Regions from separate parts of the Homo sapiens genome. Here region 2 is linked to region 1. The links come from fine-mapping of genetic effects on gene expression. Tissue or cell type: testis. Region 1 holds a variant in brackets; the other region holds the start of a gene. All regions are shown on one strand. Distances are between the middles of the regions.

The links. PIP is the estimated chance that this variant, and not a neighbour inherited with it, causes the effect.
Region 2: LY6S-AS1 starts here. The variant in region 1 is fine-mapped to the expression of LY6S-AS1 in testis (GTEx, PIP 0.92).

Annotation. Positions count from the first base shown.
Region 1 is chr8:143,104,148-143,112,249 of GRCh38, reverse strand. No RefSeq gene overlaps it. Among named protein-coding and RNA genes, the nearest start is that of LY6L, 28 kb to the right of the region's middle. The variant T/C (reference allele first, on the strand shown) is at 4,670.
Region 2 is chr8:143,036,075-143,044,176 of GRCh38, reverse strand. It overlaps LY6S-AS1 (LY6S antisense RNA 1), which reads right to left and starts at 4,968. Exons shown (of 6, transcript NR_149322.1): 1 at 4,608-4,968; 2 at 1,090-1,219; 3 at 915-1,014. LY6S (lymphocyte antigen 6 family member S) reads left to right here. Exons shown (of 4, transcript NM_001406478.1): 4 at 839-3,338. The coding sequence ends at 1,056. RefSeq lists enhancers at 996-1,571, 2,148-2,723, 4,745-5,296.

The DNA of each region.
Region 1 (8,102 bases):
ATTGCTTTGTGCTCATCCCTTTGCTGGTACGGATAATAAAGTCTCACTCTCTTTCTATCACACCTCATTATTATTTTGGCTTCTTTCTACAAGTGGTGAGCAGCCTCACCCTTCTGCTGGTCACAAGTGCAGCAGAATGGAAGAGCACGTGTGGGCTGATGTGAGACCCACAGCTCACTGCTGAACAATGGCAGATGAGTGTGTGTGATCCAGACGCACAGATTATTCCTGAGGGAACGGCCAGCCTGGTGGGCTGGATAAAAGGCACTGTAAGAGAAGGGGACCACCCAACTTTCCCCATAAACGCCAAGTGGAGCACCCCCGATGAAGCAGCTGATGTGCTTCGTAAGCAAGCCATGTGGGACTGACTTTATGATGACCGGGATATTCACGGCTGAGTATGCCCAGATCATGGTAAATGCTGTGGTTAAGGGGGCCCATTGGCCTGGGCACCTCATTGGGTCTCAACTTCCCCTCATGGGTCATCCAGATGCTTATAAAAACTTTAGGCTAATTAATAAAATTATTGGGAAAGGCAAAAGGGAGTCCAAGGACTCATCCTAGGAAGGGGAAAATTTTTAAACGATTAGTTTTAAATAGGTAAAAAATGGGCCAGGCCTGGTGGCTCACGCCTGTAATCTCAGCACTTTGAGGGGCAGAGGTGGGCAGACCACCTGAGATCAGGAGTTCGAGACTGGCCTGGCCAACATGGCGAAACCTCATCTCTACTAAAAATACAAAAATTAGCCAGGTGTGGTGGCGCGCACCTGTAATCCCAGCTACTCAGGAGACTGAGGGAGGAGAATTGCAGTGAGTCAAGACTGCCACTGCACTCCAGCCTGGGTGGCAGAGTAAGACTCCATCTCAAAAAAAAGGTAAAAAGTGGATGGGGTGAAACCAAGAGGAAAAAGGAAAGGAGAGAGTCATGGGGTGCATCCTAGCGGGGTGGAATCTGTACATGGTTGTTAAGCAATGGAATGAATAATGGGGGGTTATTCACAAAGGTCTTAATACAACACTATCGAAAGTTGGGTGAACAAAGGGAGCCCCCGCTGGTCCCTCAACAGTAAAGAGCTCCAAAACAGTTTTTGCCAGATTGGAGAAGGCACTCTAACTATAAAAATTGGAAGGCAAAAGTTACACTGAGCAAACTGACCAACAATTGCGGGGGCCAATGTTGAGGTGGGTTAATCAAGATAAGATTGACAGAAGGGCCAGGGTCCCTTGGATCAAGCCCCTGTGGGGCACCCACATCCTTTTTCACAAGAGAGGGTAAAATGGTCTGGAGGTGGGAAAAAGAAGTTCCTGGGAGCAGAACAGAAAGACGTCGAGTTATGAAAGTCGACTTGTGTGATAGAGTTATGAAAGCCGAGATGTTTAAACAGGCTTTATGTAAGGCATTACATATCCTTTACCTAAATGCTTTATGAAAATGGATATTGAAGCTGGTACAGTGGTTCACACCTGTAATCCTAGCACTTTGGGAGGCCGAGGTGGGCGGATCACTTGGGGTTAGGAGTTCAAGACCACCCTGACCAACATGATGAAACCCCATCTATACTAAAAATACAAAAATTAGCCGGGCATGGTGGCATGCACCTGTAGTCCCAGCTATTGGGGAGGCTGAGGCAGGAGAATTGCTTGAACCCAAGAGGCAGAGGCTGCAGTGAGCCGAGATTGTGCCATTGCACTCCAGCCTGGGCAATAGAGACTCAGGAAAAAAAAAAAAAAGGAAAATGGAAAATGGATATTGTACGTGGACTGGGGAAACCCCTACCTACTACTGCAAAAGTAAAGGCATGAAAAAATCAACGAAAAGAGTCAAACTGTAAAATATTGGAAGAGATTTATTCTGAGCCAAATATGAGAGACTGTGGCCCATGACACGGCCTCAGGAGACCGTGAGAACAAGTGCCCAAGGTGTTTGGGCCACAACTTGGTTTTATAAATTTTAGGGAGCCATGAGACACCAATCAATACAGGGAAGACATACATTTGTTCGATCAGGAAAGGTGGGACAACTTGAAACAGGGACTTCCAGGTCATAGGTAGATTCAAAGATTTACTGATTGGCAATTGGTTGAAGGAGTTACTATCTAAAGACCTGGAATCAAAAGAAGGAATGTCTGGGTTAATGAGGGATTGTGGTGACCAAGTTCCTATTACACAGAGAAAGCCTCCAGGTAGCTTCAGAGAGAACAGATTGTAAATGTTTCTTACCAGAGTTGATTCTCTCTTGAATCAGGGAAAAGTCCTGAAAAAGGAAAAGGATTCTCTTCAGAATGCAGCTTTTCCCCACAAGAGAAAGCTTTGCAAGGCTATTTCAAGACATGGCAAAGAAACACAATTTGCGGTAAAATACTTCAATTTCATTCAGTGAATCCTTCGCTTGGCTTCCTACCCTTGAGGCTTTTAATAAGTTGAGTCCAAAATTCCCTAAAAAAGTTCCAGCAAAGCCAACTTAAAAAGAGCCGACCAGCTTAGGCAACATGCTGAGACCCTGTCTCTACAAAACATAAAAAATGAGCTGGGTGTGGTGGGGTGTGCCAAGGGTCCCAGCTACTCGGGAGGCTGAGGCAGGAGGAGTGTTTGAGCCTGAGAGGCTGAGGCTGCAGTGAGCTCTGATTGCACCATTGTACTCCAGCATGGCTGACAGAGCAAGCCCCTGTCACAGGGAAAAAAAAAAAAAAAAAAAGCCTCTAGGGCTGGTAACTATTCTTGCCACGCTTCATGCAAATAGGCCAAGTATAATGAGACCGAAATTTATTTTGCAAATAAACTGGTCCTACTATGATTTATCCTTGGTAGAAATGGGGAAACTAGAGAGAGAAAAATTTAGATCCTAGCTCTGACCGTTGTTTTTGAGTTATTATTTGCTTACAATTTGGGCTAATCCTGAATCATTCACTGGCTACAAGTCTCTAAAGAAAAACCGGGTTTTAGTTTCCTTCACGATGCTTTTAGTCGGCTTCTTAATGAAATAGGTTCTTTTTTGTTACTGTTCTGAAATACAAATTCCCTTTTGATTGTCATCCTTGTGTGCAAATTATTAATGTTATGTATCTCTTGTTGTTTTATTTTCTCTGAGAAAACAGAAGTCGTGGTATCCTGAAGACTAGAGATGATTCAACAGCCGGTGACCCTCCCTCACTGGGACTCTCACCGGGCCCGACCTGTTTTCCGACGCCAAGGCACCGCTGCTGAAGCCAGACAACCCCAAGCACCCTCCCTAAGGCTCAGGGACCATCGCGGAAGAGGAGGGCAGGTGAGACGGTCAGAGCTGGATTAGTGGGGCGGCGCGGGCGGATCATGGAGGCCGAAGCCGCTCCATCTTGGACGCTAGTTTGTCGTGTTGGCTTCTGATTAACCTCAGTTCCGGGAATGCCTCTGAGAGTTCCCGTTCATCTGTTGTTCCTTGTGTAAGAGCACATCCTTATCACAAGTCCTGGCCTTAGGGAAATTCCTGCCCACCCCCTCTGAGGCATGTCCCCTGCACTATGGCAATAGAAGCCCTGGGCCTGGGTGGTGACGGCGCAGGGAGCCGCCATCTTGACTCACCGTAGCCTGAGACTGACATGGCTTCTGTTTCTAAGTCCCTATTAAATGTTTCTTTTTAAGAACTGAATTTGTGGGCCAGGCGCGGTGGCTCACGCCTGTAATCTCAGCACTTTGGGAGACCGAGGTGGGCATTTCACGAGGTCAGGAGATCGAGACCATCCTGGCTAACCCGGTGAAACCCCGTCTCTACTAAAAATACAAAAAATTAGCCGGGCGTGGTGGCGGGCGCCTGTAGTTCCAGCTACTCGGGAGGCTGAGGCAGGAGAATGGCGTGAACCCGGGAAGCGGAGCTTGCAGTGAGCCGAGATGGCGCCACTGCACTCCAGCCTGGGCGACAGAGCAAGACTCTGCCTCAAAAGAAAAAAAAAAAAAAAGATGTGAATTTGTCAGCCTCTTTCTTTGGCCTGTCAGCTTCCTTGGACTTTGAGGTAGATGTGTTTGGACTTGTTCACTGTGAGACAGTGGCTGAATAGTGTTCTTCTGTATACACTTAAACATTCTGTTTATCCGTCATTTGTTGAGGGATATTTGGGTTGCTTCTACCATTTGGTACTTGTGAATATTGCTGCATATATTAGGCTGTTCTTTTGTTGCTGTAAAGAAATACCTGAGACTGGTATTTGTGTTTGTCTCGCAGTTCTGCAGGCTGGACAGTAAGCATGGCACTGGCATTGGCTTGCGGAGGCTTCTCAGGAGGCCTCGGAGAGCTTTTATTGATGGTGGAAGTGAGAGATGGCGCGTCCCATGATGGGAGCAGGAGGAACATAGTGGGGGGAGACGCCGCACACTTTTAAACAGCCACATCTCCCGGGAGCTCACTGTGAGAAAGCACTCATTAGCAAGGGGTGGCAGCAAGGCATCCGTGAAGGGTCCACCCCCATGATCCAGTCACTTCCCACCCCCTCCAACACTGGGGATCATTTCCACATGATATTTAGAGGAAAAAACATCCAAACCATATCAGCTGCTATGAACATTCATGGACAAGTTTTTGTTTGAATGCCTGTTTTCAGTCCCGTTGGGTATATACCTAGGAGTGCCCTTGCTGTGTTGCACAGGACTTGCACGTTTACTTTTATAAGAAACTGTTTCCAGTGGCTGCGGCATTTTA[T/C]ATTCCCACCAGCAGGGTCTGAGAGTTCCAATCTCCTCATCTTCTCACCAGCACTTGTTATTTTCTGTAGTTTTGACGATGACCATCCTAGTGGGTGTGAAGAGGTATCTATCTCATTGTGGTTTTGGTTTTCATTTTCCTCATGACTAGGACTTACAGCATTTGATACATGACACGTGCAGATGCACCTGATACGTGACACGCGTGGATGGACCTGACACGTGCAGATGCACCTGATATGTGACACGTGCAGATAGATGCACCTGATACATGACACGTGTGGATGCATCTGATATGTGACACGCGTGGATGCACCTCGGAAGCCTGGCACCAAAGGCCGCATGCTGTATGGTTCCATTCATATGAAATGTCCAGAACAGACAAGTCCAAGAGACAGAAAGTGGTTGCTTAGGGGCTGGGGGAGGAAAAAATGGGGAGTGACTGCTTAGTGGGGCATGGGGTTTCCATCTGGAGTGATGAGAAGGTTCTGGAACAAGATGGTGGTCATGGTCACACATTATAAGTGTACTTAATGCCACTGAATTGTACACTTTAAAATGATAAAAATGGTAAATTTTTAAAAATAATTTTACTTTAAGTTCAGGGATACAAGTGCAGAATGTGCAGGTTTGCTACATAGGTACACACATGCCATGGTGGTTTGCTGTTGGTTACATAGGAACGCGTGTGCCATGGCGGTTTGCTGGTTTGTTACATAGGTACATGTGTGCCGGGTGGTTTGCTGGTTTGTTACGTAGGTATACATGTGCCATGGTGGTTTGCTGGTTGGTTACATAGGTATACGTGTGCCATGGTGGTTTGCTGGTTGGTTACATAGGTATACGTGTGCCGGGTGGTTTGCTGGTTTGTTACGTAGGTATACATGTGCCATGGTGGTTTGCTGGTTGGTTACATAGGTACATGTGTGCCGGGTGGTTTGCTGGTTTGTTACGTAGGTATACATATGCCATGGTGGTTTGCTGGTTGGTTACATAGGTATGCGTGTGCCATGGTGGTTTGCTGGTTGGTTACATAGGTACACGTGTGCCATGGTGGTTTGCTGGTTGGTTACATAGGTATATGTGTGCCATGGTGGTTTACTGGTTGGTTACATAGGTACATGCGTGCCATGGTAGTTTACTGGTTTGTTACATAGGTACACATGTGCCATGGTCGTTTGCTGGTTGGTTACATAGGTACATGCGTGCCATGGTGGTTTGCTGGTTGGTTACCTAGGTACATGCGTGCCGTGGTGGTTTGCTGGTTTGTTACATAGGTACGCGTGTGCCATGGTGGTTTGCTGGTTGGTTACATAGGTACGCGTGTGCCATGGTGGTTCGCTGGTTGGTTACTTAGGTACGTGTGTGCCATGGTGGTTCGCTGGTTGGTTACATAGGTACATGTGTGCCATGGTGGTTCGCTGGTTGGTTACATAGGTATACATGTGCCATGGTGGTTTGCTGCACCTATTGACCCATCCTCTAAGTTCCCTCCTGTTGCTCCCCACCCCCCAACAGGCCCTGGTGTGGGTTGTTCCCCTCCCTGTGTCCTTGTGTTCTCACTGTTCAACTCCCACTTATGAGAGAGATTTGGCGTTTGGTTTTCTGTGTTATGTGCATTTTACCACAAAAAAAAAATGACAAAGGAAAAAACGTTTTTTGTGTGTCAGTACCTTTGTACTTTGACAAATAAAAAGTGCGGCCGGGCACAGTGGCTCATGCCTATAATCCCAGCACTTCTGTAGATCGAGGCAGGTGGATCACCTGAGGTCAAGAGTTCCAGACCAGCCTGGCCAACATGGGGAAATCCTGTCTCTACTGAAAATACAAAAGTTAGTCAGGCATGGTGGCATGCACCTGTAGTCCCAGCTACTCAGGAGGCTGAGGCAGGAGAATCACTTGAACCTGGGAGGCAGATGTTGCAGTGAGCCGAGATCATGCCACTGCACTCCAGCCTGGGCAACAGAGCGAGACTCTGTCTCCAAAAAAAAAAAAAAAAAAAAAAAAAAAAAAAAGTGCAACAGAAGAATATTCCAGAACTGCAAAAACGTTGCTTCCCTTGGCTTCCTGAATTCAGTGGGAGACAGTCTAACCTGATTTGTATAAGCAATGATTAAAACAAAATCCTGGCCTGGCCAGGCATGGTGGCTCATGTCTATAATCCCAGCACTTTGGAAGGCCATGGCAGGCAGATCACCTGAGGTCAGGAGTTGGAGACCAGCCTGGCCAACGTGGTGAAGCACATCTGTACAAAAAATACAAAAATTAGCCAGGTATCATGGCAGGCACCTGTAGTCCCAGCTATTTCATAGGCTGAGGCAGGAGAAATGCTTGAACCCAGGAGGCAGAGATTGTAGTGAGCCGAGATTGAGCCACTGCACTCCAGCCTGGGCGACAGAGCAAGACTCCATCTCAAAAAAAAAAAAAAAAAAAAAAATCCTGGATCCTGGCCTGGGCAGCTTATGTCACAAGTGAAAGACTCAAATGAGAACCCACCGTCCACCCCTGATTCCCGTATTTTAGCCAGAGCGCCCTAAGTCAAGCATAGGCAGGGTTCCACTGAAGGAGAACACTGTTGCATGCACGGATTCAGGGTGTAAATCTTCCTAGCCGTCTTCTTGCCAGGATGACTGTGTGTTGGAGGAGGAGAAATGACCATATTTTTCAGGATTTTCAGGATGACTGGACACCGATAATTCCTGGAGACTTAATATGACACTGTTCCTTCATTCCGGGGAGTGGGGGTGAGGGTAAGCCGGTCAGATGGCAAAGAATGTTTGAGATCAGCTCCAGCTTATAGTGGAACTATTAATAGCAAGCCCAGGAACCACCATGTGGCAAATATTCCATTTCAGAATCCATGCTTAGAACAGAAATGTTTGCCAGAAGCTTGGAAAATAAGGCACACAAAATCCAGGCGTCTTCCATCTCGGTGGGATCTCCGGGGTCCAGCGCCTGGGAGCATCTCCCGATTTCCCCCCAAGGGAAAGAGAATTGCTGTCCTGGTACCTCCCATCACTAAGAGAGGGGCACAGTGCCAGGCAGGGCGTTCTGGATTTTGGAGGCAGAATAGTCTTCAGCAGATAACTGTTCTCCTTTCAAGAAAAAAAAAGTCTGGCTTTCGACTGGGCTCAAGTGAAGGTTCACTACTTCCTAGAGGTGAAACTAGTAAGCCAGTGAACACTATGAATGTTCCATTTCAGAACACATGCTTAGAACAGACAACCTATACCATAAAGTACAGGTTGTCAAGGGACCTGGGCCTCCTGCCATGAGTGAGTGTCACCCAGCACTCATGCCCCAGATGTACATGGCTGCGCCCTGCTAGCCAGGAGGGGTGAGGCATGTGGCTCAGGCTTGTGCACGGCTGACACAGCTGCGCCCTGCTAGCCAGTAGGGGTGAGGCATGTGGCTCAGGCTCACGCACGGCTGAC
Region 2 (8,102 bases), 68 kb after region 1:
AACCTGGAGACAGTTAGCTTCAAGCTAAAGGAATGACTCTGGAATGGTGGGATATCAGCCAGGCCATGGGAGGACTGGGGAGGGGCTGCAGCCTGCCCAGGCCCTCAGCACCCTCAGCACCCTCAGCACCCTCAGCTCTCGGAGCTGCATCTGTCCCCAGGCCACACCCTTCAGTGAGGTGAGGCAGGAAAAGGCCTGCCCTGGCCGGGCACGGTGGCTCATGACTGTAGTCCCAGCACTTTGGGAGGCCAAGGCGGGGGGATCACCTGAGGTCGGGAGTTGGAGACCAGCCTGACCAACATGGAGAAACCCTGTATCTATTAAAAATACAAAATTAGCCGGGCCTGGTGGGGCATGCCTGTAATCCCAGCTACTGGGGAGGCTGAGGCAGGAGAATCGCTTGAACCCAGGAGGTGGAGGTTGTGGTGAGCAGAGATCGCCCCATTGCACTCCAGCCTGGGCCACAAGAGCAAAACTCCATCTCAAAAAGATATTTAAAAAAAAAAAAGCCAGCCTGGAGCCCGCAGCTGTTTCCCAAAAGCAGCACCCAGCTCCCCTCCACAGCCCACCCAGCTCCCGCTTCGGGGGTCCCAAGGCCGGGGCAGGGTGAGGGCTGCCTGGGGAAAGAACTCAAACCCTGCTGCCCTTTCTGCCACAACCCTGGTTCCCTGGGTGGCCTCAGCGTCCCCTAAGTGAAAGGGCTCCGATGGCCTTGGTCCTGATGGCTTTGATGTTCAGGCTCCCAGCCAGCAGATGTTGGGGTGCGGAGCCTCCCTGCAGAAAGCCCCTGAGGCCCCGGGGCAGGGCCCTGCTCATCCCCCACCCCGCTCTCTCGCAGGTAAAGTGAGAGGGGAGAACAAGCTCTCCCTCCTCTCCTGCCAGAAGGACGTCGGATTCCCCCTGCTGAAACTTACAAGTGCCGTTGTGGACTCCCAGATCTCTTGCTGCAAGGGAGACCTCTGCAATGCGGTGGTCCTGGCAGCCAGCAGCCCCTGGGCCCTGTGCGTACAGCTCCTGCTCAGCCTGGGGTCAGTCTTCCTCTGGGCCCTGCTGTGAGGGCCTTTCCCGCCCTCTCCCCCGCAGGCCTACCCTCTGTCCCTGTGCGTCACCAGCTGCTTGGTTTTGAAGAGCTGCCTCACTGAATTGCAGGAATTCTGGTGTGGCTTTTCAGCCATGAGATCAGGGGAAGGATGTGGCCAGGGCAGAGGTCGGGGCTTCCCTGTCAGGGAACATATCCCTGCTTAAACTCCTTGTCCTCTGGGCCCAGGCCCTCCAGCCCATGCCCCCCAACAACACCACTTTTTTCAGAGCTGGGCCTCAGAGACCAGGCCCCACCACTGGCTGCTTGGGACCTAGGGTCATAGAGAAACCGTGGCCCAGGGCGGGAGTCCCCAGCTCCATCCAGCTTGCCACTAACTTGCCGAGGAGCCAGGGCCAACCCCTCAGCTCTCTGGGCTACCTGAATCCAAGCAAGGAGGGAACGTGGTCCCAGGGGGCCCTGCTGGCCTCCCACACAGGATGAGGGCCTCCCTCTCAAGGTCAACAAACAGCCCTTTGCTGACCCACTCAGCGTCAGCACTCGGCTTCTTCCTCACCATTCCTGAGGCCGCCCACCTGCCACTCTGACCTCAGGCCTCTGCAACATCCTGCTGGCACCATGGCCTTGGGGAGGTGCTCCTGGGGCACGGGTGCCCCCCCAGGGACCAGAACCCACAGAGTGCCAGGCTCATGGCTCTTCTGGCAGAACTCTTGCCATGTGGCTCCAGGGAACATCTGAGTAGGGTTGTCAGAGAGCCTCTGGATGGTCACCAAGAGGCAGAGCTCCTGCGGCCACCAGCCATCCTGTGGTGTGGGCCAGGCCTGTCATTTCTGTGCCCTGGCTAGGGCTCCCATGATGCCCCGTGTCAGGGGTTAGACTGGTCTCCCCTGGTGGTGGGAGAAAGGGGCTCCTTCAGGACTGCACTCTGGACAGAAAGTCAGGGCTGGGCTCAGAATGGTCTGGGTGGACGGTCATCTCAGCCTGGAGTCAGGGCTGGGCTGAGAACGCCCTGGGTGGACGGTCGTCTCAGCCTGGAGTCAGGGCTGGGCTGAGAACGCCCTGGGTGGACGGCCGTCTCAGCCTGGAGTCAGGGCTGGGCTGAGAACGCCCTGGGTGGACGGCCGTCTCAGCCTGGAGTCAGGGCTGGGCTGAGAACGCCCTGGGTGGACGGCCGTCTCAGCCTGGAGTCAGGGCTGGGCTGAGAACGCCCTGGGTGGACGGCCGTCTCAGCCTGGAGTCAGGGCTGGGCTGAGAACGCCCTGGGTGGACGGCCGTCTCAGCCTGGAGTCAGGGCTGGGCTCAGAACAGTCTGGGTGGACGGCTATTGTCAGGGACCCCAAACAGAGGGACCGGCTGAAGCCATGGAAGAAGAACATAAATTGTGAAGATTTCATGGACATTTATTAGTTCCCCAAATTAATACTTTTATAATTTCTTATGCCTGTCTTTACTGCAATCTCTGAACATAAATTGTGAAGATTTCATGGACACTTATCACTTCCCCAATCAATACCCTTGTGATTTCCTATGCCTGTCTTTAATCTTTTAATCCCATCATCTTCGTAAGCTGAGGAGGATGTATATTGCCTCAGGACCCTGTGATGATTGTGTTAACTGCACAAATTGTTTGCAGAGCATGTGTGTTTGAACAATATGAAATCTGGGTACCTTGAAAAAAGAACAGGGTAACAGCAACGTTCAGGGAACAAGAGAGATCACCTTAAACTCTGGTTGCCTGTGAGCCAGGTGAAACAGAGCCATATTTCTCTTCTTTCAAAAGCAAATAGGAGAAATATCGCTGAATTCTTTTTCTCAGCAAGGAACATCCCTGAGAAAGAGAATGTATCCCTAAGGGGAGGCCTCTGAAATGTCTGCTTTGGGGACGGCTGCCTTTTACAGTTGTAGATAAGGGATGAAATAAGCCCCAGTCTCCCGCAGTGCTCCCAGGCTTATTAGGATGAGGAAATTCCCGCCTAATAAATTTTGGTCAGACTGGTTGTCTGCTCTCAAACCCTGTCTCCTGATAAGATGTTATCAATGACAATGTGTGCCCAAAACTTCATTAGCAATTTTAATTTCGCCCCGGTCCCGTGGTCCTGTGATCTCGCCCTGCCTCCGTTTGCCTTGTGATATCTTATTACCTTGTGAAGCATGTGATCTCTGTGACCCACATCCTATTTGTACACTCCCTCCCCTTCTGAAAATCACTAATAAAAATTTGCTGGTTTTACGGCTCAGGGGGCATCACGGAACCTGCCGACATGTGATGTCTCCCCCGGACGCCCAGCTTTGAAATTTCTCTCTTTTGTACTCTGTCCCTTTATTTCTCAGACTGGCCGACACTTAGGGAAAATAGAAAAGAACCTACATGAAATATCGGGGGTGAATTTCCCCCGATAGATGACCATCTCAGCCTGGGGTCAGGGCAGGGCTCAGAATGGTCTGGGTGGACGGCCGTCTCAGCCTGGAGTCAGGGCAGGGCTCAAGGTCTGGGTGAATGGCCATCTCAGCCTGGAGTCAGGGCTGGGCTCAGACGACCAGCAGTCTTTGACCTGCCATGCCGGGAGCCACATCTCGTGACCAGGTCCTGGCCTTCCACGCTGGCCAGACGCCTGCATCCAAGACGTCCTGGTCCCTCTGACTGCACAGTGTGACAGCCACCACCCAGCCATGCCCTGTACTCCTGGATGTGATTTGCTAATTAGGGTCAATGGGGTAAGATGCCCAATTAAATATGAATTTCAGATAAACAATTTTTAGCATAAGTATGTCCCAAACATTGGTAAAAATGACTATTTGTTGTTTATCTGAGATTCAGATCAAACTGGGCATCTTGGACATTTTATTTGCTCAACTAGAAATTCATGAGTGCCTAAGGAGCTCAAGGGACATTCCAGACCCCCCAAATCTGTGTCGGACACAGGGGCAGTCACAATGGGGTGCAGTGGTTGTACCTGGTGACTCAGGACATTCGTCTACCTCCTCATGTCCCCCCTGCCTCTAGCACCACAGTGTCATGCCCTACCCTCCAGGGGGCCCAGAAAGCAGTGCTTTTGCCCAGGGCCATTGTCCCCTAGATAGAGGGTTCAGCCCAAGGAGGGCAGCCCTGATTCCCAAGCCTCCTGCAGCACTGACTCTCCACTGCAGCAGGCCTGGGGTTTCTGGCCATGGCTCGCCTTTGGCTCACCTCTCCAGAAGGTCTCTGGAAGCTTCTTCCCCACAGGGTCCTCCCTTCCACTGTAACCTTCCCTGGTTCTGGGAAACAAACTTGAGAGGCCCAGGCGCACCCCACCTCTTCTCTTTAGGTCTCCACAGCTTTTCCTCTGCCTCGTCCCCAAGGGGATCACTCTGGCCTTTCCCCTCTCCAGTGACCCTCTCCACACCCTCCCGGCTTCCCCCTTCCTCTGAGCACCCCAGATGCCAAAGGACAAGGTGAGGGAGCCTTTGGAGAAATGTTGCCTGACGTCACTGGTCCCCCACGCTCGGGGGACCCACACGGCCCGCCCTGCAGGCAGCCCCCTCCCCGCAGGCAGCCCCCTCCCCGCAGGCCGCCCCCTCCCCACCTCACCTCACAGCTGCAGGGGTCGGGGCTCGGAAGTGCTGGGGGCAGTTCAGGTTGAAGGCTGGGCAGCGTGCACTTCTCCCCCAGCCTCCTGGGGCCCGGGCATCACCGGAAGCGGAGTTTGTTCCCACTTTGTATCAGTCGCAAAGAAAGAGCACCCAATTGGACAAAAGGCAAGCAGGCTGCGTTCCTGGCCCGGAGTGGAGAAGAGTGAGCCCCTGCCCTGTCAGGGAAGCTGAGGCTGGGGGTTGTGAGGAGTCCCGTGCCGGGAGGAGGCTGCAGGAGCGCCTCAATGCACCTCTTGATACCACGCATGCTTAGCAAGGCCTGGGGACTGTCCTCTCGGGCAGGACTTCCGCCTTGTAATGACATGTCGCTGATTTAAAGGGAACTGGGGGTCACCAGCTCTGGTTTGTGCAAGTCTGGTGCGTTCTTATCTCCCTTGTATTTGGCAGGGGATCCTAAACCTCTCCTGGTATGTTGAGACATCTGGAGCTCATTAAGCCTCGGCGCCTGTAGATAAAGAGATTAAAGGAAAAAAGAAAAGAAATCCCGCCCTGGGGCAGCTGGGGTAGGATTAGCCTGGAGGCCACGCCTCTGCAGGGTCTCCCATAGGCTGGGCCAGCCTCTGCCCTCCCTGCTTCCAGAACCCCGGACGCTGATGGCCTGTGGCGGCCACTCTCCGCCCACCCCGGAGCCCAGCCTAGCGGGGAGAAGGCCGCCGGCCCGTTCGAATGTCCCTCTGCTTCCAGGGTCAGCCTGCACGCCACTCTCACAGAGGCCAGACGGGCGGTGGGGCGGGGACTCAGTTCATCCTCTGCCTGAGGAGCAGGTCTCGGGTGCGACTGAGCTTTTCACCCTTTGAGAGGAGTCAGGGACACGCAGCGTCTCCAGCAAGCTGGTGGCAGAAACTGATGGAGCATCCTAATCACAAAATAGGAAGAGAGTTTGCAAAATAGGAGCATTTACCAGAAGCCTCTCTCTCTCCCTCCCTCCCTCCCTCCCTCTCTCTCTCTCTCCCTCTCTCTCTCTCTCTCTCTCTCTCTCTCTCTCTCTCTCTCTCTCTCTCTCTCTCTCTCTCTCTCTCTCTCTCTCTCTCCCTCCCTCCCTCTCTCCCTCTCTCTCTCCCTCCCTCCCTCTCTCTCTCCCTCCCTCCCTCTCTCCCTCCCTCCCTCTCTCTCTCTCTGTGTGTCTCTCAAGTAGAAGTGGGGTCTCTATGTTGCCCAGGCTGCTCTCGAACTCCGAGGCTCAAGCGATCCTCCTGCCTCAGCCTCCCAAAGTGCTGCGATTACAGGTGTGAACTACTGGGCCCAGCCCCAGGCCCTCTTACAGGAGTGGGCTGCCTAGAAACATTCCAGTGCCATATCCCACTCCACTCCGGGTGCAGGGACAGGACCCCTGCCACCCCCAACCCAGGCCCAAAAGGAGGGGCCAGGAGGGGAGGGGCCACCAAGGCAGGTGAGCTGCTTAAGAGGAGCGAGGGCTGTGGACAGTCCTGCGGACTGCAGGAGGGGCCAGCAGGATCAATATCCAGCTTCTCTCTCCTGCTGGGCTCCTGCTGGGGCTCCCTGTTGGTCACCCCAAAACCTACTGTCTCTCATCGCTGCCGGGGCTGGCCAGGCTCAGCTGCTGGTTCTGCCTTGGGGCACCTCCTAGGTGGAGTCAGGGTGGCTGAAGGCTTCCCCACTCATGCGTCCACTGTCTGGACATCCTGCCCCTGCCCGACCTCCAGGAGTTGCAGTGTGTGAAGGCCACACCACAGCCCCTCTCTGCTGCCTCCCTCATGTCTCCTCCAGAATGATGCTCTTAACCCCCTCATTAGAGGCCCCCATCCTTCCCAACTGTACCTCTTGACACCCTGAGTACAGTTCAAGAGACCCTGAAGAAACTCAGAAAAGTGACAACTGGAGGCTCTGGGAGAGAAGAGTGAAGTCACTCACATTTGTTTTTATTTACTTATTTTTTTTTTAGAGATGAGGTCTTGCTTTGTTGGCCAAGCTGGTCTCTTGAACTCCTGGCCTCAAATGATCCTCCCATCTTGGTCTCCCAAAGTGTTGAGATTACAGGTGTGAGCCATTCTCTCCGGCTTACTCTGCGTTTTACAGGATGGGATGTGTTGATGAAAGAAAGCCAAACTCTAAAATATTTGAAGAGGTTTATTCTGAGCCAAATGTGAGGACCATGACCTCACATGACAGAGACTCAGGAGGTTCGGGGAACATGTGCCCAAGGTGGCCGGGGTACAGCTCGATTTTATACCCTTTAGGGAGAAAGAAGTTACAGGATGAGATGGTTTGGATTTGTGTCCCCGCCCAGATCTCATGTGGAATTGGCGGAGGGGCCACGTGGGAGGTGATTGGATCGTGGGGTCAGACCTCCCCCTTGCTGTTCTGGTGATAGTGAGTGAGTTCTCAGGAGATCTGATGGTTTGAAAGTGTGACGTGTCCCCCTTCGCTATTTCTCCCTTGGGCTCAAGGGATCCACCTGCCTCGGCTTCCCAAAGTGTTGGGATTACAGGTGTGAGCCACTGCGCCCGGCTGAAGACTCTGTTGATCCTGATTTTTTCCCCATTGCTATTATGGCTGTTTTTCTCCTCTTCTTTTCTTGACTGGTCTCCCACAAGAATTATCCACATTTTTAAGGCTGGGCGTGGTGGCTCACACCTGTAATTCCAGCACTTTGGGAGGTTGAGGCAGGTGGATAATTTTAGGTCAGGAGTTTGAGACCAGCCTGGCCAACATGGTGAAACCTCATCTCTACAAAAAATAACAAATATTAGCCGGGCATGGTGCACAAGCCTGTAATCCCAGCTACTTGGGAGGCTGAAACACAAGAATTGCTTGAACCTGGGAGGCGGAGGTTGCAGTCAGCTGAGATTGCACCACTGCACTCCAGCCCTGGCAACAGAGTGAGACCCTGTCTCAAAAAAAAAAAAAAAAAAAAAAAAAAGCAAGAGTTATCAAAGTTTTTAGTTTATCCAAAGAAATAACTAACTTGTGTATCCTAATATGTACATAATTTCCATATTATTAATTTCTGATGTCACTTTTATTCGTTTCTTTCTTCCGTTTTTTTGGATTCCATTTGCTGTTCTTCCTGTAATTTCTTGTGATGAATGCTTCATTCATTAATGTTGAATCTTTTTTTTTTTTTGAGATGGAGTCTCTCTCTTGTCACCCAGGCTGGAGTGCAATGGCGCGATCTCGGCTCACTGCAACCTCCCGGGTTCCAGCTGCCCTCCCGTCCAGCTGCCCTCCCGGGTTCCAGCGATTCTCCTGTCTCAGCCTCCCAAGTAGCCGGGATCACAGGTGTGTGCCACTAGGCCCAGCTAATTTTTGTATTTTTAGTAGAGACAGGGTTTCACCCTGTTGGCCAGGCTGGTCTCCAACTCCTGACCTCCGGCCTTGGCCTCCCAAAGTGCTGGCATTACAGGCATGAGCCACCGTGCCTAGCCTGAATGTGTTTTTAATGTATGAAGGTAAGGGCCAGTGGGAAATCTTC